4 separate regions of the Homo sapiens genome follow, and all the other regions are linked to region 2. The links come from fine-mapping of genetic effects on gene expression. A gene starts in region 2. Each other region holds a variant in brackets. All regions are shown on one strand. Distances are between the middles of the regions. Region 1 overlaps MYRFL (myelin regulatory factor like). Region 2 holds the start of RAB3IP (RAB3A interacting protein). Region 3 overlaps LOC105369823 (a long non-coding RNA gene). Region 4 overlaps MYRFL (myelin regulatory factor like).

What was found. PIP is the estimated chance that this variant, and not a neighbour inherited with it, causes the effect. A credible set is the group of variants that fine-mapping cannot tell apart.
Region 1: its variant is the best candidate, but not a certain one, in a credible set for the expression of RAB3IP in esophagus muscle (GTEx, PIP 0.88).
Region 3: its variant is the best candidate, but not a certain one, in a credible set for the expression of RAB3IP in prefrontal cortex (CommonMind, PIP 0.82).
Region 4: its variant is the best candidate, but not a certain one, in a credible set for the expression of RAB3IP in whole blood (TOPMed, PIP 0.74).

The regions. Positions count from the first base shown.
Region 1 is chr12:69,846,713-69,851,787 of GRCh38, forward strand. All of the region lies in intron 1 of MYRFL (myelin regulatory factor like), which reads left to right. Among named protein-coding and RNA genes, the nearest start is that of MYRFL, 24 kb to the left of the region's middle. The variant C/A (reference allele first, on the strand shown) is at 2,877.
Region 2 is chr12:69,735,962-69,741,036 of GRCh38, forward strand. It overlaps RAB3IP (RAB3A interacting protein), which reads left to right and starts at 2,899. Exons shown (of 11, transcript NM_022456.5): 1 at 2,899-3,070. LOC101928002 (a long non-coding RNA gene) reads right to left here and starts at 2,589. Exons shown (of 4, transcript NR_110072.2): 1 at 2,317-2,589. RefSeq lists a silencer at 2,647-3,476.
Region 3 is chr12:69,637,713-69,642,787 of GRCh38, forward strand. LOC105369823 (a long non-coding RNA gene) reads left to right here. Exons shown (of 5, transcript XR_007063358.1): 3 at 1,098-1,302. Among named protein-coding and RNA genes, the nearest start is that of LRRC10, 29 kb to the left of the region's middle. RefSeq lists an enhancer at 1,758-1,837. The variant C/CT (reference allele first, on the strand shown) is at 2,631.
Region 4 is chr12:69,832,904-69,837,978 of GRCh38, forward strand. All of the region lies in intron 1 of MYRFL (myelin regulatory factor like), which reads left to right. Among named protein-coding and RNA genes, the nearest start is that of MYRFL, 10 kb to the left of the region's middle. The variant C/T (reference allele first, on the strand shown) is at 2,404.

The DNA.
Region 1 (5,075 bases), 110 kb after region 2:
AGTAATGGGATGGCTGGGTCAAATGGTATTTCTAGTTCTAGATCCCTGAGGAATCGCCACACTGACTTCCACAAGGGTTGAACTAGTTTACAGTCCCACCAACAGTGTAAAAGTGTTCCTATTTCTCCACATCCTCTCCAGCACCTGTTGTTTCCTGACTTTTTAATGATCACCATTCTAACTGGTGTGAGATGGTATCTCATTGTGGTTTTGATTTGCATTTCTCTGATGGCCAGTGATGATGAGCATTTTTTCATGTGTTTTTTGGCTGCATAAATGTCTTCTTTTGAGAAGTGTCTGTTCATATCCTTTGCCCACTTTTTGATGGGGTTGTTTGTTTTTTTCTTGTAAATTTGTTTGAGTTCATAACTAGTGGCAATCAGGAGCTACAGTTCTTTGGTAATTGTCTGGTGGGGTGGGAGGTTCTTGTGCCACTCAAACTGCTGCAGTAAGACAAAGGCTTAGTCAGAGGGCTCTGAAGGAAACTCACATTTCAAGGCCCTTTTGTTGTTGGGTGCTAATGTATTCTTCTGCTCAGAAACTGCAGAAAGGATGGGGTGAAGGAGGGCATATAGAACAGAGAGCATATGCCCCAATTATGCCACCTCTTTACTAAGGATTGTCAATCCAGTCCTTGCTAGTGAAGACATTCATTCATTCATTCAACAAATATTGTTTTTTTCAAAGAAAAAGTTCATTTTATTCTTACTCAGAGATGAACTTCTTTTATAACTTTATGATTACAAAAGTAATACATTTAAAGAATAAAACAAGTATAAAGAAGAGAAAACAAAACAAAGCACTATCACTGAAGATAATCACCATTAACATTTTGGATTCCATCTCTGTGGCTTTTCTATGCATTTGTTATCCAGACACATATACTTCCTCATTAGCTGGCTCTGGAGTCCTAGAAAATATTTACCTCGCTCTTCAAATGACTTCTCTCTCTCTCTTTAAAAAAAGAAAAAGAAAAAAGCTTTAGTACTATGAGGTTACAGTGATGAATAAGACAACTATGATTTTTGCCCTCATGAACCTTTTCTAGTAAGATATAGGCAATCATTAAGAAGCTTTGATTTGAGAATTATTAGTCCAAAACCTTAGAAGCAGCATTTGCTTTCAACCTTGCTTTTCATGTAGTCTGAAAAAATCAATTTTTATGTAGTCAAATTTATAGACTTTTTTTCTGTATATTTTTTGGTATTCTTATTATGGTTTAAGAGTCTTTTTCTCTTTCCAAAATATACAGACATCAGACATATGTGCCTGTTTTCTTCTAGTAATATTATGGTTTATCTAAATCCTCCATACATCTAGGAATTCATTTTGGTGTAGAGGTGAGACTCTAGTATAGAACATAGCTTTTTTTCATGGACATAAAATGATACATCTATCACAAACTAAATTCTCATAAGTATGTTTGGGTTTATTTCTGGACTTTATTATGTTCAAAATATTGGTCTGTTTATTGTTGCAACACAATATTTATATTACTTTTGTACATCTTGTTGGTAAATATCCCTTTTTTACTCACATGTTTTTTATTATCATGGGTATTTTCACATTAGCATTCTTTGAGATAAACTTTAGAATCAGTTTGTTTCCTTAAGAAATTTTTGATTGTAGATATATTAAATTTATAAATTAATTTAGGAGTATTTACATCTTTATACTATTGCCTTTTTTATCCAAACAAAATATGCTCTTAATTTATTCATCTTCTCTTCATTCTATCAGAATTTTAGAGTTTCTTCTTTTGATTTAATTTTATTCCTGACAATTATATTCCTATTATAAATGGATCTTTCTGCATTACATTTTCTCAGTAGCTGTTGTTTGAATATAGAAATCTATTTTTTATACATTACTTTTGTGGTGGTCTCCTTATTGAAGTTGCCTATTATTTTAAACAAGTTTTAGTTGGTATTCTTTGATTTTATAAGTTTAAAATATATGTCATATGCAAATTATTTCCACCTTTCTGACATTCATAACTCTCTTCATTTTCTTGATTAAGTGGGATGCTAGTGCCTTTAGCAGTGTATTGTGTAATAACATGGTAACTAAAATACTTATTTTATTTCTAACATTAATGAAAATACAGTAGTTCTAATTTTCTAAATCATTAAACATGACACTGGCTCTTATTTGTTTTTGTTTTTGTTATTGATTATTGAGACAGATCTTGCTCTGTCACCCAGGCTGGAGTGCAGTGCTGTGATCTCGGCTCACTGCAACCTCTACCTCCCGGGTTCAAGTGATTTTCATGCCTCAGCCTCCCAAGTAGCTGGGACCACAGGTGCATGGCACCACACCCAGCTAATTTTTGTATTTTTAGTAGAGACAGGGTTTCACCATGTTTGCCAGGCTGGTTTCAAACTCCTGGGCTTAAGTGATCTGCCCATCTCAGCCTCCCAAAGTGCTGGAATTACAGGCGCGAGCCATTGCGCCCAGCCAACACTGGGTCTTATTTGATGTTAGTTTTCTATCATAAACATAATATATATGTGCATATGAATATATATAATCTTAAGGATGTATTCATTGGAATTGATGTTGAATGCCTTTTGGCATTAAGAAGGTCAAATACTATTTTACCTTTGATATATGAATTCTAGTATTGAGTCATCTTTGTGTTTCTTGATGATAAATTTTTCTTTTAATGTTGAATTTCATTTGACAGCATTTTATTTAGGATTTGAGTATACCATTCACAAATTATATTAGTCTATGGTTTTCTTTATGCATTTCATCTCTATCAGATTTTGGCATTCATTTTATGCTAGCTTCATGAAAATACTTTGGATACTTTTATTCTTTCTCTGTTTCACAATTGTGAAAATGGTAGAAGAGTTATATTGTTAAAGTTTTAA[C/A]AGCATGATCCTTGATGTCATTGGAACCTTGCTTGTTTATGCAGGGGTAGGGTGATGGTTATGGTGAAATTTTTCTCTGTTTATTCCAGGGCTATTTGTCATTTCAGACTTTCTCTTTATTTTTGAGTTGATTTTGGCAATTTGATTTTTTAATTGTTTTAGAAAATCATTTTACCCAAAGTTGTATAAAATATTTTTCCAAAGTTTAAAATTAGGACTTGAAAATAATGATCAATTGCCCTCAATCCTATAATCTAACCAGTGTTAATGGTGGTGGGATGTTATTTCATCATCTCTCCATGAATATCTACAGATAGAAGGATATGTGGGTGGATGGATGGGTGATGTGGTTTGGCTCTGTGTCCCCACCCAAATCTCATCTTGTAGCTCCCATAATTCCCACGTGTTGTGGGAGGGACCTGGTGGGAGATGATTGAATCATAGGGGGAGGTCTTTCCTGTGCTGTTCTTGTGATAGTGAATGAATTTCATGAGACCTCATGATTTTAAAAATGGGAGTTTCCCTGCACAAGCTCTCTTGTCTTGTCTGACACCATGTGAAATGTGCCTTTCACCTTCCACCATGATTGTGAGACCTCCCTATCTATGTGGAATTGTAAGTCCAATAAACCTCTTCGTTTTGTAAATTGCCCAGTCTTGGGTGTGTCTTTATCTGTAGCATGAAAACAGACTAATACAATCAGTAGGTAGATAGATGGATAGAAATTATCATTATAAGAAATGATCTTATATGCACTATTTTAATAAAATATTAAATTTAATATAAAATATTAATTTTACTTGAATTTAACAGAATAAAAATAACTTGAAGGAAAACTAAAGGAATTACAGAATTTTAATTCTGAAAAAAGTAATTATTTATTGTTAAAACTATCAGTTCTAAAGGATTCTTCCAAGATTAAGGAAAGGGGATTTAGAAAATGACTAAAAAGTTGAAGAAGTTTTTTTAACCAAATGGTACAGGTTTAGGTAGTAAAGACGAATTCTGAGATATGAGTGGTGAGATAATTAGTATTACATCTCTTCCCACCTCCCATCTCCCTGCCTTCCAATTTTTGTTGATTATATTATTTTTTCTTTGTCAGGGTTTATTACTTTTCCATTTTGATCTGTAGCCAAAATCCCCTTAGAATTTCAGTCTAAATCCTATATTTACATGAATTCGCTCTTCATCCATGGTTGTTTTTCACCTCAGTTTCTGTATTCTTTGTTTTTTTTCTTGTGATTCATTCTTGATTGGCTGAATTTTATTGTTAAGGAGCTACTTTCAAGAGGGACTTAAAGGAGTCTTATACCCTCAACTTTTTCATTTTGGAATTGTCTATCTGTTGCCTTTATATTGGGAAAGAAATTCACCGCATACAAGATTTTGCAACCCACTTTTTTCTCTTGAGACATTGTAAAATTTATTACAATGGCTGCATAATATTTCATGGAATGGATCTTACTTATGTAATATTCTTGTCAAACATATACAATTTGAATTTAACCATAAGATAATAGGAGGCAAACTAAAACTGAGGGACATCCTATAAACAACTAGCCTGTACTTTTTGAAAAATCTAAAAAGACATGATAACCCAATGCATTATGTTATTCTGGATTAGATTCAGGACTGGAAAAAATTGTCTATAAATGCTTATTACCTGGATGATGGGATCTATACTTTAAATCTCAGCATCATGCAATATACTTATGGAACAAACTTGCACATGCACCCTTTATTTCTAAAATCAAAGTTGAAAGAAATAATTTTTGCTGAATACCGAGGCTTAAACCAAAACAGAACATATTTCAGTTTGTTTTTCATTTTTTGTATTAAAATACTTATGAACATCAAAACATGCTAAAACTATTGGGTAAAAATTTGATGAGAAACAGTATGTATGCAAAATCTCAAAGTATCTCCCCACAAATTATAAAAGGAGAGCTTTTACAGTGAGGAAAGCTGGCAGACAGTACTTTAACCAAGGAATCAACATTAACATCAGTCATAACAGAACATTATTATCCTTCTGATGTAAGGCACTGAGAAGGACATAATATCACTTACATAATATTTTATTTTGAGACAAGGTCTAGCTTTGTTGCCTAGGCTGAAGTGCAGTGGTGCGATCATGGCTCACTGTAGCCTCAACCTCCCGGGCTCAGAAGAACCACCCACCTTAGCCTCCTGAGA
Region 2 (5,075 bases):
TTTTATACGTTATATTTGACACTAATTGTATAATTTACATTTTTAAAAAATAAAGAGAAAAAAATAAAGAGAAAAAGGCAACCTTGAGCACACTATAAAATCTTTCACTCTTTTTTTTTTTTTTTTGAGATGGAGTCTCACTCTTGTCACCCAGGCTGGAGTGCAATGGCGCGATCGGCTCACTGCAACCTCTGCCTCCCGAGTTCAAGTGATTCAAGGTTCAAGTGATTCTCCTGCCTCAGCCTCCCGAGTAGCTGGGATTACAGGTGCCAGCCACCATGCCCGACTAATTTTTTATGTTTTTGGTAGAAATGGGGTTTCACCATGTTGGCCAGACTAGTCTTGAACTCCTGACCTCAGGTGATCTGCCCACCTCAGCCTCCCAAAGTGCTGTGATTACAGGTGTGAGCCACCGCGTGCGGCCTTTTGTTTTGTTCTTTTGAGACAGGGTGTCACTCTGTCGCCCAGGCTGGAGTGCAGTGGCGTGATTTCGGCTCACTGCAGCCTCCGCCTCCCGGGTTCAAGTGATTCTCCCACCTCAGCCTTCCAAGTAGCTGGGACTACAGGTGTGTGCCACCATGCACAGCTGATTTTTTTTTTTTTTTTTGGTAGAGATGGGGATTCACCACGTTGGCCAGGCTGGTCTCGAACTCCTTACCTCAAGGATCTGCCCACCTTGGCTTCCCAAAGTGCTGGGATTACAGGCATGAGCCACCGTGCCCATCCAAATCTTTCACATTTTTAAATTTTGTGAAATAGCTGTCCTTTTTATATATGGGTAAGCTATCAAACTTAAGATGCTCACAGCCCTTTACATACTTTGTAGGCTGAGATTCTGAGTGTCTAATATTCTGTAATGTATCTTGGTCTCTGTGCTGCAAGAACACTGAAGTATTATTATAGGTAACAATCTATATCACTCTTCTCAAACAGCGCTAACAGGTTAAGTATTCAAGAGGAACATCTTTCAGTATATTTCAAAAAGCCTCATGGATGGTAGGTGATTTGTAAATGGACCAACGCAGGACTCAGGCATATATGGTTACTGCTTACTATTTCCTATAGATCATGATGTCTTAGGTCTTATGTAGAATATATCATAGGACTTGTCCTCTAAACATTCACATACCAAGACTGCACTCTGCATGCATGCCATTCACTCATTCTGCATTTACTGAGTCAGTCCTACTGCATGTCAGACCTTGTGCCTGTTCTCAAGAAGCTCGCAGTCCAGGAAAATGGAGAAATACAGATACAATTATAACTCTATGTGATAAGTGTTACAAAGAGATACGGTGTTATGGAAGCCCTGGTAGGGGCACTTAGCCCATACTGGAGTGGCTGGGATAGGGCTGAGTGGCCAACAATAGGGAAGGGTTCACAGTGGAATTGATGTCTAGGCTAAATAATGAATAACAAATAATTAGCAAGGCAAGGAAAAGGTAGGAGATCAAGACATAAAAATAAACAGCATATGGAAATACAGGGTTGTATGTGAGTACGGCAAGACTGGGGAGCCTAAGTGGTTTGCTGTATATTTAATTTATTCATTTCACGTAGCTACTATTGACATACTTGTCTCCCTATATATGTTTGAGTCCGTGGATGGTGGGGACTTTGTAATGGTTTCTCTGTCCCTATGTCTAACAGGAGGCACACAGATGGAGTGCAATAAAATGTCTGATGAATAAATGACCAGCTATGAGGTGTAAGGGAGAATAGGAATCCATTAATGAGAAAGGTCATTTCTAGTGGCAATGAATATCAGATAAGATAGATTTAAGAATTATTTAGAAATTAGGATGAATAAGACTTGGTGATATATTGGCGATGGGGTATAAAATAAGAAACACTGGCTTTCTAGGTTTCTGGATTACAGATGCATGATAATAGTTATAATGGTATAATAACAATAGCTAATATTTATTAGGCACTCTGTGTCATGAAGTACGCAAAGTGTTTACATGAATTAAGCCATTTAAACTCTTAATGACTCAGTGAGGCAGGTTCTGTATACTCATTCACTGATGAGAAAATTGGGGCTAGAGAGATTCATTTGCCTAAGGTCACTCAGCTAGCAGGTGGCAGGCTCAAGCCCAGTAATTCTGACTCCAACAACCATACATATAGTCTACTTTTCTTTACTGCCTCTAATAGATGAGATTAATACCCAGAATGATGGTCCTATTCAATAAGTGTATCACACAAATGCACGTTTCTCTTTTGCTAAACATAGAGACACATACTATGACTACCTCTATTATTATTATTTTTTTTTGATTTTTGGGATCTTGGCTCTTTCTGTATTTTTCCTACCTGGAAGACCTAAAGTGGGGTAGAAGTTTGATAAAACAGTTGGCACAAAAGATGAGAGAAGACAGGTACAGACATGACATTCTCGAACGCTCTGGCAGTTGCTGGAATGATGGGATCTGGGTTCTACAGGATTCCTCCCCTCCCATCTCCCGCCACACACACACACGTCGTAAGGTGTATATGGCCGCGGAGTCTCAGGTTGGTTCTAGGAGTCCTCAACCCACGGCAAAGGTGCCTCTTCTCCCTCCTGGAGAGCCCAACATGCTTGAAGTTAACCTGAGGCCGCCTCTCGGGCCCGGCGAAACAGAGCGCGGGCCCGACGAAACAGAGCGCGGGCCCGACGAAACAGAGCGCAGCTCCGGCTCGCGCTGGTTCCCAGGGAAACCGCCCGCGGAGGAACCTCGGGCCAGGGCCGTGACACCTGCGACGAGCCCCGCCTGGCGCCAGGGGGCGCGGAAGCGCGTCCGCCCCCAGGCCCCATGCCGGGCTCGCCCCGCCCCTGCCGGCCACACCCCCCTACCCCGCCCTCCCTCCGTGAGGACCGGCCGCTCCCGGCTCCCGGCCCCCGGCCCCGCTTCCGGCGCAGGCGCAGTCCCGCGTTCCCTCGGCGGCTGCCGGCGTAGTGAGCCCGCCGCCGTGGAGTGTAGCGGAAAGGGCTCGCCGTCCTCCTCCGTTTCTCGCTGCTTCGGGACGCGCTCTCTGCGGCTCTGTGAGCGCCCCTGAGCGCCGGCAGCGGCCGCGGTGGGTTCTTCAGGTGAGTGCGGCCGCGGGAGGGAGAGGCCCGGAGCGTAGAGCACCGCCCCCCTCGGCGCCCGCGCGCCCGCCTCTGGCGAGTCGGCCAGGAGGGGCGGCCGCGGCAGGTGCAGGTGCTGGCGCCGTGCAGGGCGCGGCACGCGGGGGTTCGGGGGGATGCCCAGGCCCGGTGAGCTCGCTCTCCGCCTGGGCACTTGGGCTCCGGGCCCTTGGGGGCGGCGTGTGGGGGGGACTTTGGCGACCCGGGTCAGCCGGCCGCCCCCTGGGCTGCTGGTGGGCGTCGGGCGGCGGCTCCTCCCCCGGGCACGGGCGCGTTACACATTAACTGCGCGGTCCCGCGCGCCCGGGGCAGGGAGCCCGAGTCCAGCGGGTTACCTGGCGGCGGGCGGGCGCGGCCGGGAGCGGAGGGCCGCGGTCGCGAAGAGGATGAAGAGAGAGTTCCCGAACAAGTCGGAAGCAGCTCACAACACCGGACGCCGCGCGGCAGGGCTGTGGACCTGGGGTGGTTTCGTGTCCCAGTCTTAGGAAACTACGCGCGAGGCACCGTGCTGAGGCGTAGAGGTCACCCTCGGGAGGTTTCGGTGAAACCTGGTGGGAAATTCCGGGCAGGCGCCCGGAGTCGCGCCCAAGTAGGCAGCTCCGTGCCGCCAGACTTGTGTTCGGGGGAGTTGAGACGAACTGCACGGGTGGGATTGCATGGCTCTGCCCTCCCAGCGTTGACAACTCGCCCCGACCGCCCAGGAAGCGCGAGCTTACTGGCTCCAGAAGTGATGATGCTGGGTGGAAGTCGCAGCATGTGAAGAGTTGCCGGTTGTTATGGGATTAAAAAAGATGAAAGGGTAAGGTCTTGAAAGACACGAGCGCTGAGTTAGTTAGTACTGATTACTGAGAGGCAATTTAGTTTCATGGAAATGTTGCCTGTTCGGAGGCTACCTGTTATACACTCTCCTGTTTCACCCCAACTCCTTCCGTTCAGTGTCGGGTTAAAAGCCTTGTAATCTCTTGCAGTGGAATGATTGCATAATTGGAGGAGGGGCCCATAAGAGGATTACAACAAAACTGTTCCATTGTAAATCAGTTGAAAGACCCAGTTCTTGTTCATTATCCTTTTTCTCATTTTGTTGTTCATGAAGGTTTTTTTTTCTTCCAGTGCTGAATGACAAATCAAGGAGAAAAGAGGCAGAATAGGGTTGTAGACCAATCGTAGTAAATATTTGATACTGTTAAATATTTCACCAGTTTTATGGGGCCTTGTTCTGTTATCATTTGTTATTTATTTACTAGTACTGTGCATTTTGATAGGACTTTTCATGTTTGGACAGACAGTGTATTCCAGATGCGGCTTATGTGATCTAATCCTAAAGCCCTTGTGGAATTTATAGAAATAAACAGTTATACAATTAAGTAGTCCATTTTTTAACTATTAAATGAAAAGCCATTGCATTTTTTTCCATTACAGTAATGTTACATATTAATGTATACCTTTGTGAACCAAAGTGTTTGATACAACTCTTCCTTCTGTGTTTGGTAAACAACTCATCTGTGGTACTGAATACTTGTAATCTTTCACCAGGATGGCCATTTAATGTTTAGCTGCTTTGTGGGATTTCTGAATAGATCCTATTGTACTTTTTGAATTAGTGCAGTTATCCATATGTTTCCTTTAATATTCTTTACCTTTGATTTTGTCTAAACTCTCATCCTCCCCCAACACACACATCCTCTACAAATAATTTTTAAAATGGAAAGGTTCTTAGAAATGTTTCACCCCCTCATTTTTTAAATATGGCACGAAAAAATACTTTGTAGATTACAGTAGTTTTATATGCATTATAGTAGTTACTATACTTTTTTCCTCCTCAACAGGAGTCAGTGAACAAATTAGTGAGCTGGCTGAATGAAAAATTATTTAATGTTCAGCTCCATCACTTACTGTGCATAAAACCTTGAGTAAAACATTTAACCTGTTTGAGCTTATTTTCTCCATTTGTCAGTGGAAATACTAT
Region 3 (5,075 bases), 98 kb before region 2:
AAAGGGAGCGCCACAGCTTCTCCTTCCAGGAGATGATCTGCAAATTGCACCTGTCATGCTTTGCTCACATTCTATTGCCCAAATGTAGTCACTTGTGATCCATAGAATGGATACTGGGAGACAATTAGTAGACTTTGCTACAGGTAGCCAATAGCCCAGCCTGCAGAGTCACGTCAGATATGAAATCCCAAAGTTCCTCCTGACTATTGGCAACAACAATCACTAACTGCTACTACAAAAAGGTAAAACAAAAATGAACTTACACTTTCAAAATATCATTCATGTATATTAAACAAATACTTCTTGAGTGTCTACCCAGTGCCAGACAGTGGTCTAGGTTCTGGGAGGTACAGCATCGTGGGCCACATGGTTAGAAGCTGAGTGTTCCTAACAAGGAGGCTGATTTTGCTGCTCTACTTTGCACTGGTTAAAAAAAAAATTCCACCTCCCACCCATCAAATATGGGGAGTACTGTGCTTGCTTCTGGGTGCACATTTGAGTAGGACCATTTATGACACCGCCAGCAGAGACAGATCAGGACAGTGGAAGGACTCAAGATCATCAGATGTAAAGAACAATTTGATTCTTGGTTTGGCAAGGTTTGGTCTCAAGAAACGGTGTGTGTGTGTGCACGCGTGTGTGTGTGTGTGTGTTGAGGGCATGTATAGAAGCATCATACTCTTCAGATGTTTGAGGCAGGTCCTGAGCAGGCAGGAGGATGGACTACTTAGGTGTGGACCCACAGGCAGAATCAGAACCAGTGGGATCTGGCTGTCAGGGGACAGCTTTTCACTCAACATGGAGAAGGCCTCTAAAGAGTGTAATGTCCCAGCATGCAGTGTGTTGTCTCAGGAAGGGTGAATTGTCTTTCACTAAAGGGATTCCAGCTGGATGAATCTTGGCAGGATGATTGTAGAGAGAATTCTACCACACAACAAGGCACTGAACCAGGTGACACAAAAATTTCCTTCTCACCTCAAGGTTCTAAGAACAGAAGGTCAGTGACATGAAGACCTACTGTGAATGCATTTACTCCAACCAACCGGGAGCCAGTGGGTATCAGCAGCCTCTGAGGTCTATTCCTTGATGTCTTGCAGATGAAGAGGCTCTCCATTCCACATTCCCCACTGATTTGAAGAGATTCTCCATGTTGGTCAGGCTGGTCTCGAACTCCTGACCTCAGGTGATCCACCTGCCTCGGCCTCCCAAAGTGCTGGGATTACAGACGTGAGCCACCGTGCCAGGCCCATATCCCCCTCCTGATAAGACCCTCAGCTGCCAATTTCTTGGATTCTGTCTTTGGTAAGCAATCCATTTAGAAGGGGAGATTTTAAACATTAACAAGAGCTTAAAGAAATAATTAAAGTGTGTGTGCTTGTGTATTATCTTGGACTCAGGGATGCAGAACCCCCCGCCCATAAGAAAGGCTGTTTCTACTCAAAAGCCCCTCTGTGCTTTGAAGCATCTTCCTCTAAAGTTTCTCATATTCAAGTCCCTCCCTGGTGCCTGGGACTGGCGGGGCTGGCAATGCCATCTGGACAAGGCGCTCTAAGGCGTGTGGGGTTTCCTGCAGGCCCTGCTTCCAGGAGTAACCTGACTGATGCATGGGTCACTCCTGGGTCTGGTGCGGTGTTTTGTTTTTTTCAACATACTGATTTGGAATGACTCAAATTATTTACACACACAGGGGCTCTGCATACGTTAGGGGCAGCCCTGATCGCCCCAGCCCTGTCCATCCATGTCCCAAGCCTCCTTCCCCAGAGGCAATGACAAGTGCATCTGAGAATCTTCAGTCGCCCTCAGGGATGAACATAGCTTCCACCCTTGGTTTCAGATGGATTGAAGCGGAGGCTCTCATCTGGGCCTTTTGAGGCTCGCCATGCTAAGTGCTGCCACCTGGAGGCAGCGTGGAGAAACCCTCGCTGGTGTTCCTCCCTTGGCCTTTGCTTCTGCCACGTGTAGTTTGTTATACGCTGTTTTTATCAAATCGGTCCAAGGTAGGAGATTTAAGAAATAATGTCCATAGATATTTGACTTCGCAAAATAGTCACTTATATACTTTCAGGGAAGAAACATTAAAAATTATGAAATCTGAGGAGGGGGAAGGAGAGGAAAAAAAATCCCAAATGTTTTGCTCCAAAGTCTGGCCCATTTTATTAACTAATATTAAAAATAGTTAATAATTATTGAGTCATAACTTTGCATCAGACCCCATATTAATAGCTTTATCTTCACAATTTCATTTAATTTTTCAAACAACCTGACGAGGAAGGTTCTGGCATTAACACAATTTTGTAGTTGATGAAATTGAGGTTAAGGGATGTTCGGTAGCTTGCTCAAGGTCTTACAGCTAGTAAGTGTTTGAGCCCGACTAGAGCAGTGCCTCAGCTCTTAATCACCATACTATTTAATAATATGATGATATAAACATGATGGCAAGTATGTATTGTGTATGCTATATGGCTAGCTGTGTAATATGAGTTTATTAATACCCACAAAAATAGGTATTACTATTATCTCCATTTCATTTGTGAGAAAACCAAGTCACAGAAAGGTTAAGTAACTTGTCACCAAAAGTGGTCTATCCAAGATTTGAATCCATGAAATCTAAGTCCAAAGCTCATATTCCA[C/CT]TTTTTTTTTTTTTTTTTTTGAGAGAGAGAATCTCGCTCTGTCACCCAGGCTGGAGTGCCATGGTGCAATCTTAGCTTACTGTAACCTCTGCCGCCTGGGTTCAAGTGATTCTTCTGCCTCAGCTTCCTGAGTAGCTGGGATTACAGGCACCTGCCACCAAGCCTGGCTAATTTTTTTGGTATTTTTAGTAGAGATGGGGTTTTGTCATGTTGGCCAGGCTGCTCTCCAACTCCTGACCTCAGGTGATCTGCCCACCTTGGCCTCCCAAAGTGTTGGGATTACAGGCGTGAGCCACCATACCCGGCCCAAAGCTCATATTCTTACTTTTATGTTCAAAGACCTCACTTCTTCACAAATGTTGACCAGGCCATGTTTGAAATTTGGTTTTATATGTGGAATATGTAATATGTTTTTTATGTGGAATGTATATATAAAACATATATAAAAACATATATAAAAATATGTTTTATATGTGGAATGTAAAATCAGAGCTCATAAACCAGGCACAGTGGCATATCGCAGTAGTCCCAGCTACTCAAGAGGCTGAGGTGGGAGGATCACTTGAGTCCAGGAGCTCAGGGCCAGCCTGGGCAGCATAGCAAGATCCATCAAGATCCATCTCTAGGAAAAACAAACAAACAAACAAAAAACAAGAAGAACTTACTCCCCTGGTATACTGTGGACCACAGACCATAGAAAGTACACATTGTCTGCTGAAAAATACGTAGAGAAGATACCTGGCTGGTACCCAGCCAGCAGGTGTTATGGATGCAGGGCGGCAGTGATGCCCATGCCACCCTGTATCTGCTCTTTTAGGTTCTAGGAGGCCCTGAGGGAGGGGGATTGTGTGTATCAGTTTTAGATGTCACCACCAACTCTGAACAGCTCTGAATCCTAGGACACATACTTATATCTGATTTTTACTGCATGTTTTTGTTTTGTTTTGTTTTTTGGAGACAGTCTCACTTCATCACCCAGGCTGAAGCACAGTGGCGTGATCATAGCTCACTGCCGCCTTGACCCCCTAGGCTCAGGCCATCCTCCTGTCTTAGCTTTCTGAGTAGCTGGGACTATAGGCACATGCCAGCATGCCTGGTTAATTTTTAAGTTTTTTTTTGTGTGTGTGGAGATGGGGTCTTACTATGTTGCCCAGGTGGGTCTCAAACTCCTGGCCTCAAGCAATCCTCTTGCCTTGGCCTCTTAATGTTGGGATTACAGGTGTGAGCCACTGTGCCCCACCCTACGCTGCATGTTTCAGTGGGGTAACAACAGAGTGGGATTTGCAAAAACTGTGTGTGGGAGAGACATCGACTCCCTTAGCCTTGGGTACTGGAGGTGAGGCAGCTGCAGAGAACTGCACTGGTGGCTGGGGGGCCATACCCCATCGACCTTGATGGAACAGCTGAAGGACACGGTTGTTTCCACTCTGACGCTGGCTTTCTGCTCTTTGCTCTCAAACGCCTCAGTGCTCCTTCCACAGGCTCTCTGAGTATCACTTGAAATATTCAGAGGAAAGTGGCTCTAAACTTTATGTTGGCCAAACACAAAGCCAGTGCCCATCACGGAAAGAACTCAAGAACATGGGCATATTCTTGCCTCTTATATTTGACGTTTTGCCTAACTCCAGTCTTTTATCAACTTTTGGACTTATAACTTTTAGAAGTTTTATTTCCCCTGCAGTGAGGGGGCTTGATCTTGTCCTTAGTCATCTCTCCCACCAGCAGGATTTACCAACTCTGGCTTAGCTGTTTCTTCCTCCACTTACTGGCTTGCCTTTGTCCTTAGGAGAGTAAAGCTGGCTTTAACACATTCCATATCCCAGGCTGGGCACAGTGGTGCACGCCTGTAATCCCAGCACTTTGGGAGGCCAAGGTGGGCAGATCACTTGAGGCCAGGAGTGGCCTGGCCAGCATGGTGAAACTCCGTCTCTACTAAAAATACAAAAATTAGCCGGGTATGGTGGGGCATGCTTGTAATCCCAGCGACTCAGAAGGCCGAGGCACGAGAATCACTTGAACCCAGGAGGCAGAGGTTGCAGTGTGATGAGATTGTGCCACTGAACACCAGCCTGGGTGACAGAGTGAGACTCCATCTCAAACCCCTGTACCCCCATCCCCCCCAAAAAAACCCATTCCAAATCTTTTCATCTCCTCTCTCTGTGGAGTGCTCTCTGTTGCTCAGCGCTCCATGCCCATTGCTGTGGAGCTGACCTGGGAGTGACTGATGGCTCCTGAGGCTGAAGGATGGAAATAGCAGGAGGGCTCCTGGCTGCCCCGCCTGTGGCAAGAGCCAACCAGCCTGCCAGGTACCGTGAACAGCAGCTGTGGCTATACAACCCTGAATGAAGAGGCTCGAGTTTCCTGAGTGGGAATGGCATGGCAATGACATGCTGTTCCTGAGTTGTCTGGGATCTGACATCTCTGCCAGACCTGCTGCCAATGGGG
Region 4 (5,075 bases), 97 kb after region 2:
TAGTACAATGTACTTAGATGTCGAAGACTGAGGAACAGGCTTGTGTGTGTGTGTGTGTGTGTGTGTGTGTGTGTGTGTGTGTGTAATTAAGAATTCATTTGGGACATTTTACGTTTGAGATCTCTTTTAGACAACCAAGTGGAAGCGATGAGGAGGCAGTTGGATTATTGAATTTGAAACCCAAGGAAGGATTAGAGCTGCTGTTGTCAATTTGGGAATCATCAGCTTAAAGAGTCATCAGTTTAAAGCCCCTGAGACTAAGTGAGATCACCAAGAAGAGTACAGATAGAGAAAAGGGTCCCAGATCACATTTTGGGATCCAAGTGAAAGTAACTAGTAAAGGAATGTTTAGTGAGGTAGGAGGGAAACCAGAAGAGTGTGGTTGTTAAACTAGGAAAGAAAGTGTTTCAAGAAGAATATGGTTAAACGTTTCAAATGTTTCTGAAATACAAGACAATTGCCTATAGAATCTGGGGAAAAGAAGGTTGTATGTGACCTTGAAAAAAGGATTTCGTGCAGTGGGGAAGGATGTCCAGTCAGTGGGTCGAAGACAGCAGCCTGTGATCAGTAAGAAAACCACTATCATTTAATGAAGGAAAACCACTGCCATTTAATGAATGCTTTACTTTATGTTGGATATTGTACTAAGACTTTATATTAATTCTTAATTTGCACAACACAATGAATGATAATGTTGTCAGTATTTTAGAGAGGAGGAAACAGATTCAGAGAAGGTATGTACTTTGCCCAAGGTAGCACAGCTATTAGGTATGTGAAGTGCTTAGATTTGGACAGAAGTCTGTCTGGCTCTGAAGGCTTGTGTCCCTATCCACTGTGCACATTGTCTTCTAATCAGGTCACAGGGAACATCTATAGAGATAGTTGTAGAACTCATGTCTCCTGTGAAGCAGAAGATAGGGCTTGCTTTTTTTTTTTTTTTTTTTCGGTACAATTTGCATGTAAAATTATTCCGGACTGCTAGCAGTTGGCACTTTACTGCCATCTGCCATTATTCCTTAGAAAATCCCAGCTCTAGCACAATAAGATGAGGTGTTAGTGGTAAAAAGGTAATGGTTTATGTTCATTGAGCAGGCAGCTCCAGAAACTCATAATGTAAGTCCACTAATAAGAGTACAAAGATATCAGAACACCATCACTGTTCTTTAGTCCTGCTCTGTGCATAACAAAAATATACAGAGGAAAGTTAGGCAGCAGGCTATGCTCAGAAGTGCAGTATAAATATTAACTCTTAATCTTGTAATTTTGGGTAATCTGACTCAGGACAAAAAGTCCAGCAAGATGGGACCCCAGTGGTTGATACCCTGGTATTAACAATATAAGAAACAAATGTCATATATGGCAATAAGAAGTAATGTGTTCTGAAGAGAGCATCATGTGACTTGATGCTGAGAATTAGTGTCATTCTCGTAGGGTTAAAGCTACCAATAGCTCAACTATTAAGAGCTGAGAAATATGCTTCCTAGGAATCTCTGTGGTATGCAGGCTAATGGTGTATGCCTTGTTTCAGGCACACTTGGCTTTGAATCCTGGTTTCTTTGCATCTTAGTTGTATGACCTTTTAAAGTTTCAATGTTCTCCATCTGTCAAATGGGGATAATAACACCTACCCTCTTACGGTTGTGAAGATTAATGATAAAACGTTAAAATGACAGAATAAATGGTAGTGGTTTTTATTATAGTATTTGCAAGTGTGAAGGAACCAAATTGCTTGTTTTATTTATTGTGAAACAAGAACAAGTACAGCTACATACATAGATCCATACATTTCTTTTTCAAAGAAACACTCCTGTCTCCAGGGAGTTATTAAAAGTTTTACATGTTCACATTAATTCCAGAGAATTTATAATCATAAAATCCATTTATAGCCCTTAGTTGCCAAGCAACAAAGGACAAAGTACTGAGTATTTCCTTTTATTGCAAAAGGTTCAGCTTTTCCATGTTGGTCTTGAAATCTACATTTTTCAGAAAACACAGAACAGTGAAACTTAATATATTTCCAAGATTTAGTTGGCATTCTTTGTTTGGGGTTAGACTCAAAGCTGAAAGAAATATATTGTTATTATTGTCCTGTTCTTAGATCGTCTGAAGGATTTTGTTCTAATTTTATAGTAAATCTGTAAGAAGTTCTGAAGTTGAGAGACTGCAAATTCATTTTAAGGAGATAACTTTTTTCAGTTTACCTATGTTCTGTGATGCTCTCATTTTAAAAGAACCGGTTCTTGTATCTATCAACTGTCTTTCAGGAAAGGCCGGGGTGGTATAAAATTCATACAGAAAAATGCTATCTGCTGACCTTGTTAATCACTGACCTCAAGTAGGTCATTCAGCCATGCCTTGGCAGGGTTTGGGGAAGCTGGCTCAGATCTGAACTAAATTCTCTAC[C/T]TCCTTAAAAGGGATAGAAGTTTTTAACTACTTCTGCTGTTTTTGTTCATGAAAAACCAGAAGTAAAGGTTTGAAAGTCCATATAATCCAGAAGGATATATTACTATTTAACATCCCATAAAGAACTCCAGTACAACTCATATATTTAACCGCTCATAAAAGCATGCATGGGAAACAGTTTCTTAATTTGCATAGCTATTTTTTTATTCATCTGTATTAAAACAGTGCAAAAGCAGATTAGACATCTTTGGAATTTTACTGCCCTTGTTCCTATCTGTGTTCTGTATATGTAGTGGATTCCGTAGATGGAAAGAGAGAAGACAATGATCCTCTTTTTTTCTTCCATTGTTGGATTAGGGAAGCTTGTTGCTTTGAAACAAATCTATTGATAAGTCTCATGAAAGTTCCTGACATGGAAGAGGTTCCCTTGTCCCCCTCACAGGGTGTGTGACAGGGGCAGTGGCTCGCTTCTTCAGTGCCCTGCTGCTCAAACCTCTAGGAGAGCATACAGACGGGCAGGCTGTGGGGCTCCAACACCATGGCAGTGTCTAGAGGTGAATGCTTACAGCTCCTAAAGCCCCAGTGGATGTGTGTTACAGTGTGCTCTTTTAGTTTTGCCGTCTATAGGCTTGTGTTAACCACCTCAACTAGACCCTCTACCTTGTCGCAAGGACAAGAGGGCTTTCTTTATCCTGGGTTCTTGCCTTGGTGTACCGGAAGAATCGGATCACACGTGGGCTTGGAGAATGAGTGCAAGGTTTTATTGACTGGAAGTAGCTCGCAGCAGGTGGGGGAACCAGAAGGGAGTTGGTTTTCCCACTCAGTGGCCCGGATTGCCCTGGCCAAATTCCGTGTGCTTCTGCCGGTCAGGGGCTAGCCGGCATGCCGGTGTGGGTCCATTCCTCTTGACGTCCAGCCGCCTGTGTGTTCCTTCACCAATGTGCTCCTCTTGCCCTCCAGCTGCTTCTGTCTCTGCCTTGCTGGGGTCTCGGGTTTTTATAGGCACAGGATGGGGGACGTGGCAGGCCAGGGTGGTCATGGGAAATGCAGCAGAAATGCCTGTCCTCACCTAGGTCCATGGAGGTGGAGCCCTAACTAGGGAACACACCCTCCTCTACCCAGCACTCCCGCATCAGTCCTATGTGCAGGAAGAGGCAGAAATGACACAAATGATTATAATTCCACAAGATAACAGCTAGTCAAAGCTCTTCTGCTAAGAGTAAATATTCCTTGGAACGATTTTTCTGTGTGAATATAAGAGTAAGATCTAGCTGTTAGCATGAGCAGGCTAATTCCAGTCAATCAGAAGAGGGACACTTTAAAATCTATTATCCATCCATCTCAAGTGTTGTTCCTTAAGAAGCATTTGAAGAACTGCCATTAGCTCCTTTTATCCGTATAAGGATAAGACAAACAAAAATTTGCTTCCTTCCCCTGAGAGAGGCAGGTTTCTGTGTGAGAATCTGAAATAACCTTTACTGGTGGTGAGGAGGTCAGGTCTGTGAAACAATGCTCAGGACCTGTCCTCCCCTTTGCTGGCTTTTTGTGAAAATGTTAGAAAAAACAAAAATCTATAGACGGCCACCAATATTAACGTGTGTTTATTTTGCCAGTTCATTCTTAACCCAACTTCAAAGTTTCTTTCTCACTCTGCCATTTGTGTTATGCTTGCTTATAGAGTTTGACATTTTACAAACTCTTGCATTTCCATCAACTTGTTGGTCCTTCACACATTTAAAAAAAAAAATTGAGCCTTAACAAATTGACAGATATGCCTAAAATCGGATTGGTAAATTTCAGGCAAGACCCTGTGTTTTCATTCCAAGTCCAACACTTTTTTCATCTGCACACCACTCCGCCTACCCAGAGGGAAGAGCAGGGAAAGACAGGTATTGGCCCATTAGCTTCCGTATTCTAGAACGAGATGCCAATAAATATAGTCAGTATTTGGGAAAATTGCCTCCCTTCTATCCTCCTCTCACTCACTTACCCCTAGCCATTGTATAATTGCTCACAAACTGGCCACTGGCTACCCAACTCCCTCTTCAGGACAGAGTCAAAGTTTCCATCTTTTCGGACTTTGCCTAACCCCCTGCTTGGATGTAACTGATCTGTCATGAGTTCAACAATTGGTTCATTGTTCTGAGCCCTGTCTCCGGGGGAGTGGAGAGGAATTGGAAAGGGATGCACACTTACTGTGTGCCATGAACCAGTAGTAGATTCATATATGTTATCACATTTCATCTGCAAGCCACTCTGTAAGGTGGTAAAACCCATCTCCTTCATCCAGATGAGGAAGTAGGCCCAGAGAAGTTAAGCAAAAGTAGAATTTAACCCAGGCCTGCCTGACTTGCAGTTTTCTAAGTCTCATGCTCTTCTTACCTCTGGGTCACATGGGGCTTCCTCCTTCTGGAGCACACTTCCCTGCCTTGTTTACTTGGTTAACTTGGTTCACTCAAGATTCTGGCTTTGGCGTCATTCCCTCAGGGGCTCCCAGTGTGTTTCCACAGTACTTTGCACTTCACCTTTCAAAGTATGTAATGAATGCCTTTTTTCCGTGTCTGTCTCCTATGGACACCTGGAAGGAGGGAACTATGCCTTCTTCATTCTTGTAGCCTCTGCACCTAGGGACTGGTACATAGCAGTCACTCAAATGTATGTGTTGAGTCAAT